Regions from separate parts of the Homo sapiens genome. Here regions 1 and 3 are each linked to region 2. The links come from fine-mapping of genetic effects on gene expression. A gene starts in region 2. Each other region holds a variant in brackets. All regions are shown on one strand. Distances are from middle to middle.

What was found. PIP is the estimated chance that this variant, and not a neighbour inherited with it, causes the effect.
Region 1: its variant is the best candidate, but not a certain one, in a credible set for the expression of VPS26A in monocytes after interferon gamma (Fairfax 2014, PIP 0.75).
Region 3: its variant is the best candidate, but not a certain one, in a credible set for the expression of VPS26A in whole blood (TOPMed, PIP 0.56).

The regions. Positions count from the first base shown.
Region 1 is chr10:69,069,636-69,072,135 of GRCh38, forward strand. No RefSeq gene overlaps it. Among named protein-coding and RNA genes, the nearest start is that of SRGN, 17 kb to the right of the region's middle. The variant T/C (reference allele first, on the strand shown) is at 1,135.
Region 2 is chr10:69,123,188-69,125,687 of GRCh38, forward strand. It overlaps VPS26A (VPS26 retromer complex component A), which reads left to right and starts at 991. Exons shown (of 9, transcript NM_004896.5): 1 at 991-1,093. The coding sequence starts at 1,091. RefSeq lists enhancers at 225-584, 1,449-1,955 and a silencer at 845-1,244.
Region 3 is chr10:69,171,343-69,173,885 of GRCh38, forward strand. VPS26A (VPS26 retromer complex component A) reads left to right here. Exons shown (of 9, transcript NM_004896.5): 9 at 1-2,543. Among named protein-coding and RNA genes, the nearest start is that of SUPV3L1, 7.6 kb to the right of the region's middle. The variant A/C (reference allele first, on the strand shown) is at 1,093.

The DNA.
Region 1 (2,500 bases), 54 kb before region 2:
GGGGACATTGGGCCCAGGCAGTGAGTGGCCTTGATTCCTGTCTCCCCTGCCTGGGAAGGGCAGTCAGGGGTGACCCTGACCTCGTCCTGTGTGGCTAACCTGAGGCAATGATTATCCTCTCTAGGGGACTGAGGCAAGCGGCCAGGTGTCTTGAGGGCCCGCTTATCTCAGGACTTGGACCTCTATGGGGTCTTGTCTCACACACCCACTGTGGGGCTTTCCCTATCTCTGCTTTACATGCACATTGCAGAATAAGAGATGCCGTTGAAGGACTCTATCCAAGAAGCCCTTCCCAATGAGATTTGAGGCCAGGATTAAGAGGCCTTAAATGGACATTTCTGTGAGGAAGAAATTGTGCGTGCTTAGATGTCTGTGTCTTTGGAGGGTTTGGAGGGTCAAGACACCATCAAATTTGTGTTTCACAAGCTTGAACTTGAACAAATTTGTGTTTCACAACAGGTTTGATGGGATCTGGACTCTCTCTGCTATGGGGTCAGCCCTCCTGGAGTCCACCCCAGCTTGAGCACTGGAAGCCTGCCCTGGATTGGACAGGAACCCTGCATTTCTCCCACTGGCACTCACCCTCCGCCGATCAAATTATATCCTCGGCTTCCTCAGCAGTACAATCTTCAGAGGACTGTGGAGAGGATTAAACTGTTATTACTGTACATGAGAAGTGCTTACATCAGTGCCTGCTCACAATTTACATGTGATTATTATCATTATAATCCCACCTGGCCTGGTCAACATAAAGAAACCTGGGGCCTGTTCTGACTCCCTACCCCACTTTATTTTTAAAATAGAGACAGGGTCTCCCTCCCTATGTTACCCAGGCTGGTCTTGAACTCCTGACCTCAAGCGATCCTCTGTTCTCGGCCTCCCAAAGTTCTGGGATAACAGGCGTGAGCCACTGTGCTCAGCCTGCTCCTTCCCTTTATCTGCCAGGCTTGAACCCTTCTCCCTGGTGGGACCCAGAAGGCCAGCCTGGCAGAGCTGTGTGAGGACCAGGTAAGCTCTCACACCCACCCTGCCTGGCATGTAGTAAGCCCTTCCTCGCCTCTTTAAAGAAGACCAAGGCAAATGGGTTTATGATTTCTCAGGAAGGTTTTGATTCTGTTGTTTTTCCTTCCCAGC[T/C]TCCCAATTGTCTACTGTACCTGCAAACTCCCTATCCTTCAGGTCCAGATCTAGTGTGTCTCCTGCAGCTTCTGTCTAAACTAAGGATTGCCCTTTTGGTCCCTATTCCAGCCCTTCCCCTCTGGGAAATGACGTATGCCTTCCAGAACTTCTAACTTTACCACACTCTGATGGTGAGCTGGGCACTGACTGTGTGGCTGGCATTGTTCTTAATTACCACGTTCCAGGTCTTCACACAGATGGGCTTATTTGATCCTCACTGTGTTCCTATGAGGATGGTGTAATTTTGATCTCTATTTCTTTAAAAAATAGAGATGGGGTCTAGCTATGTTGCCCAGGCTGGTCTCCAACTCCTGAGCTCAAGCAATTCTCCCCACCTCAGCCTCCCAAAGTGTTGAGATTACAGGCATGAGCCATCGTGCCTGGCCTATCATCCCCATTTAAAAGACAGAAAATCTGAGGCACAAGGAGGTTAAACAACTTGCCTGAGATCCCAGTTAGAAAGCGGTAAGTTTGAACCCAAGTAGTGTGACTCTAAGCCCCAGCTCCCAACCACACCATTTTGTTGCCATCGTAACTCTAATGTTTAGAATCTATTGGATACTCAAAGGTCTTGGCGTGTCCTAAATTTAAATAAATAAGTAAACAAATAAATAAATAAATAAGAATCCATAGGAATTGGGAAAAGGAGCATGGTCTTTGTTCTATGAATGTTGTTTGTTTTTTTTTTTTTTTTTCAGTCGAAAGATATTTTACTGCAAAATTGGAGATTTCAAATTCCCCCTGGTTATATTCTGCTGGTGTTTAACCTCCTTCTAAATAAGGCATTCTTTCTGAATCTCACTGAATTCTCTTGTACTAAAAAATAGAACTATTTTTTCTTGCTCCATCACCTGTGGAGATGGAAAAGTACTGATCAGCACGTTCTCTCGCATGCTTGAAAATACCTTCCCGGTATCTCACATCTCTCTGAGCCCATTCTTCTCCAAAGCCAGAGGACCTGGCTCCTTTCCACTAGGCGGGTTTCCTGTTCGTAGCCCTGACAAAAGTGTCCAGAGTTTTCCAGCCTCTCTCCTTCCACTGGGTATGCATTGGGCCATGAGGGTGGCGCTGAGGGTGCACACAGGGTCCAAAGCAAGCCATGTGGCTTGGGGTCCTCCATCTCTGCTCAGAATTTTATTTTAGCTTACTTTGTTATTTTTTATACTCCAGAACATTTAAAAAAGAAATGAAGGTGTAAAGAAGTGGGGTGGGGGGGGGGGCAGGTGGAAAACGTTAGCCTTAATCTCTCCTCCCCTGACATTTTAATACAGGTTGGAGTTGACTTTGAACCTGAGGGCCTAAGTGCCCGGCACTGCGAGGGTAT
Region 2 (2,500 bases):
CGGTTAGAGATGATACTCTGATTTCAATCCTCTTAAATTTGAGGCTCACACTGAGGATTAAGTATAAAAAAATTTTTTTTGATACCTGTTTCATGGACTCGCCTCACAAACTTCTGTTTTAAGGTGGGGTAATTATAGTGCGTTCAGGGATGGATTTTTCTTCTGCTTTGGTTATGCATAGAGTGCACTGTGGCCCTTCAACACTATACTCTGAAATCCCACACAGTATTTTCCTCATCTGGAGGTCCTATAGGCTTACACTAGGGAGGAGGATCCAGTTCAGGCCAGCGTAGTCTTCAGCTGCGCCGTGGGACTTTCGGGGGAGCGCCTTTGCCCTCTCAGAACGGCTGGGCGGAACGGTGGGTTTGTGAGCCCTCCAGGCTCAGGGTGGGTCGCTCAGGGGCCATCTGGGGACTTTGGGAAGCAATGAAAGTTGTACCCTAGGATTTTTTTCTACTGGTCTTCTCTTCAGAGGCGAGAAAGCCAAGTTAAGAAAACCCAGACTCAGAAGGAGGTGGAGCGGGACTGCGTTCAGGCAAGGTGGCAGAACGCCTCGCCGTGGACGAAGAGAGCACATCTCTTCTTGCGAGGCCTAAGGAAGTAGGGCTCCCACTCGCCTCGGCAACCCAAGGACCCAGCCAAGGAGAGAGCCTCCAGATGAATCCTTCCTCTCCTCCTTCCTTCCCAGCCGCTCAAACTTTCACAAAGAGGAACTGGGTGCGGTAAAGAGGCCGGACACGGAACCGCTCGTCCGGTGACCGAAGAGACGGCGAGGAGGAGCCCGCGAACCCGCCTCTGTTCAGGCCCCGCCCACTCGACGTAATTTGCCCGCCCCTCTCCACCCTCCGAAGGGTGGAGCCTGAGGCCCCGCCTCCAAGCGGCCTCTCCCCGGAGTGCCTGGCGGCCAGCAGGGCGGGGCAGGAGGCTGGGAGAGGGACGGGTGCGGGGGTGGGGGAGAGGAAGGGAGCGGTCACGTGTGAGGGGCGGCCCGAGGTCACGTGACGGAGCGCCGGAGCGGAGGGAGCCGGGGCTGGGAGTTCTCCTGAGGGAAGAGGAGTGGAGTAGGGGGGACGCGGCGGCGGCGTTGACAATGGTGAGTGCGCGGCGGCCAGCGCGCTCGCCTCCCGCCCTCGTCCCGGAGCGCGCGGCGGGCCGGCCAACCGCGGGCCGGGCGTCGCCGGAGGAGGGGACGGGGGAGCAGGGCGGGGAGCGGGGTTAGGCCTGTCGGGCCACCCCTGGGTCTGGGAAAAGCTGGCGGCGCCACCTCTTCCCGGTCTCGGCGAGGCCCGAGCACCTACGGGCGGCGGCGTGCTCTCCTGGCCATGTCGGAGCCTCTGCCCGCGTTCTTCGACTGCTTGTTGGGGCTCTGGCTGGGGACTCGGACCCCGCCTCTGCGGGGGCTGGTCGCCGCCTCCCCTTCCTAGGTAGCCAGTCCCTGTTCTCCTCCCGGGCAGCCTCTCTTCCATCCAGGTGGGGCGACCCGGGAGCCCCCCACCTCCGGACTCTTCGGGGGACTTGGGCACTCAGTGTGTCACGAACTTGATAAACTCTGATATTTTAAAACCTGACTATGGTGACATTCTTTGATTTCATGACCCCAGTTCAGGCTTTCTGTTGACACTTGTAAAATGGGAGAGAAAAATAAAAGGACGTTGGAATGGGGGATATCTTTAACTCCAGAGACACCCGTTTGGTGCCCGCCGTTTTAAGCATTGGCTCTCATTTCCGTCCGCAAGCTATTTCGCTGAACTTAACGCTCTGGGTTGTTGAAACGGCCTATGAGGCAGAGGAGGGAGGGGAATCAGTGCTCTCACCACAGTCCGCGGAAGCACTAGCCTGGGCATTGTGGTATTTAGCTGGGTGTCGGCAGTCTCTAGGTTAGATCTCATTTTACCCATTTTCTGGTAGTAGTCGTCAGTTCTCTTCATTTAGCGCCTACTGTATGCTCTCCTAATACTACCTGCTCTTCCCAAAGCTCACTGATTCAATAGACTGCTTGAGACTTTTGGCTTAAAAGGCCGAGCCAGGTATATTTTTAAAAAGCTACTTTGAATAAATAACTTTTAATTTCAGTAATGATGTTGCTTTCAAAACAAAACAAAACAAAATCCAGACATTCATGTTCATTCTTAGAGCTTTTTTTCTTTCATTCAACAAATAATTGCTCAGGTGTGCCTAGGGGACCCCAGTAAAATGGAAACAGCGCCTACCTGCTCTCGTAGCTTACAATGTAGGGAGAGATAAACATTTATTTGTGTAAATTATTTGTTTAACGTGGAAATTAGAATTGTGACAGATACTAAGAAGGAAGTATTGGGGGACCTTGCCTAGTCAGTGTTAGGGCAGGCTTCTTTAATTGAATATCATTTGAAAAGAAAACTTAAAAGGTCCTCCTATTTTTTGCTTACATTTGTAATTATTACTTTTAATACGCTTTTTTGAATTATGTTCAAGAGCAGTTTATATTTTCAAGTTACCCAAACAGAAACTAAATTGTAAA
Region 3 (2,543 bases), 48 kb after region 2:
GTTGCAGCTGGAGGGGGCGGAAAAAGGCCAAAACTCCATATATGTTAGTCTTCCTTTATCTTACAGCGCAGCATTTATTTTATGATATAATGAAATGTTCGTTCATGTATATACATTTTTAAAAGTGCTTTCTTTGAAACACTGGAACTTTGTTAAGCTGCCTTTTTTTTTTTAACTTCCTACTTTGATGATAAGCACTCAGATATATATCAGCGTAAACATGAAAAATTTTCATGTGAGTAGGCTGGTATTTGTAATTTTGCTTTCTTTCTGCATAATGTTGATTATAAATCCTCTCTTTTCAGGCTAATGATTACCTCTTATTCTCTACATGCAAAAAATTAAATATTTTGTGTTCAAATAAAATTAGAAAACCTGAGTGGCCTCTTGTGTCCTGCAGAGATTTAAAACATGGCATCTCAATATTTTTGAGAACTACATTTGTTTTTAACATATGTGTTTGAGAAAAGCATATGGAGTGTTTCACCGCAGGCACTTCTGAGTACCATTCCATGGCTTCCAGAATTTTATCCTCTTTGAGGTCTTCTGTGCTATGAATATTAGATTTCTTTCCCCAAGGGATTATGTGGCAGGTCATTATGGCCTTCTTTTTTTTGGCCATATTAAGTAACAGTTTTGCTATATTCCAGTAGTACCGTTGTGTGTTTTCTGCAATGTGGAGTTGACTTAGCTTGGCATTTTAGATTTGTTAAAACTATTTTTTCCATAAATACTTTGAAACATATTTATATATTTCAATTTAAGGAATCTTTTTGCCATGTGTATGCAAATATTATTTTCTTCATACATTCATTTTCTTTTCAGGGGAAAATTTTGGGATGGGGGACTCAGGAGGACCTGTGAAGCATGTAGTTATCTAGATCTGGGTAATTTCATGTTTATTAAACTCGAACTTTGGCTAGTTAAACTCATATTGAAACTTCATCTAGTCTCTTAATTTTTTAACACTAAATTCAAGTCATTTGTTTTAAGTCTCTAAAAAAGAAGATTGCAGTCATCCATTCATATGCATGGGGTCTGATCGCAAATACACTAAATGTGGAGTGTAGGAACCAAAATGAAACCTGCTGT[A/C]TGGAAACTACTTTCACTTATGGTTCATTGGTTTTTGTACCAATATTTTTTATGCACTTCAGTGCAAGTCTTGTCAGTTAACCTTACTTTATGAGTAAGCTAAATAACCCAAATTACATTTCTTTAAACCTGTTTTACTACTATGGCACTTTGATAAAATGGTCAGGAACCAACTTTACTGGCAAAAGGGTCCATGTACCACCATGTGCTGGAGCATCTGTTCTACATGTGGATATCTATGAATGGTAATGTTTTCCTTCATGTAAGTGCCTATTCAGAGTTTCAGAATTTTAAAATGCCAAATATTTTCATGGTCATTTGCATGTAGTAAGCCAGAAAATATTCAAAGAGATTTTGAAAACCAATTGTATTTAACCAGCCTCAAATTGTGCAACCATGATGTATAATAAAGAATTTGAAACAGAAACTGAGCTTGCTGTTTGCATGATTAAAATAGCTCTGTTCTCAAATCTCTTCTCATTGTTAGATTTATTGTCGAGGATAGGATTGTTCAATAGTTTAGGAAGCTGTAACTGTGATAATGAATTTTTATAAATATTACTGGTTTCAATTTTAAATAGATATATAATGCTTTTAATAGGCTGGCTTAAAACTGTCATATACAGGATGCCTATCCGTTTTGCTCAAGACTTTTTGTAGCATAACCAATTTGAAAAAAATTCAAATTTAATATTTGGTGATTTCAGTCAAAAGTCAGCCAGCTAATTAGAAGTCATAAACTGAAAAAGAAATTTGTGTCTTTAATGAAGAGTTACAATGTCTAATCCATTGGTTCTCAACCCTGGCTGCATATCAGAATCACCTTAGAAGCTTTTAAAATAACCAGGCCCGGGTCCTACTCTGACCAATAAAATAAGAATCTCAGAGACTGGGCCATAAGCATTAAAAACAAAACAACCTCAAAAAAATACCTGTCATCTCAGCCACTTCAGGAGTCTGAGGCGGAAGGATCACCTGGAATTCGAGACCAGCCTGGCCAACAAAAATGAGACCCTATCTCTACAAAAAAATTAACAATGAGCTGGGCATGGTGGCATGCACCTGTATTTCCAGCTATTTAGGAAGCTGAGACAGGAAGATCCCTTTGAGAGGTGAAGCCAGCTGGACTTCTGAGTTGCGTGGGGACTTGGAGAACTTTTCTGTCTTACAAGGGGATTGTAGAATGCACCAATCAACACTCTAGCTAGGATTGTAAAACGCACTCTGGCTAGCTGGAGGTTTGTAAAATGTACCAATCAGTGCTTGTGAAAACGCACCAATCAGGCTGGGCACAGTGGCTCACGCCTGTAATCCCAGCACTTTGGGAGGCTGAGGCGGGCAGATCACCTGAGTTCCAGGAGTTCGAGACCAGCCTGACCAACGTGGAGAAACTCCATCTCTACCAAAAATGCATTAGTCGGGCGTGGTGGCACATGCCTGTAATCCCAGCT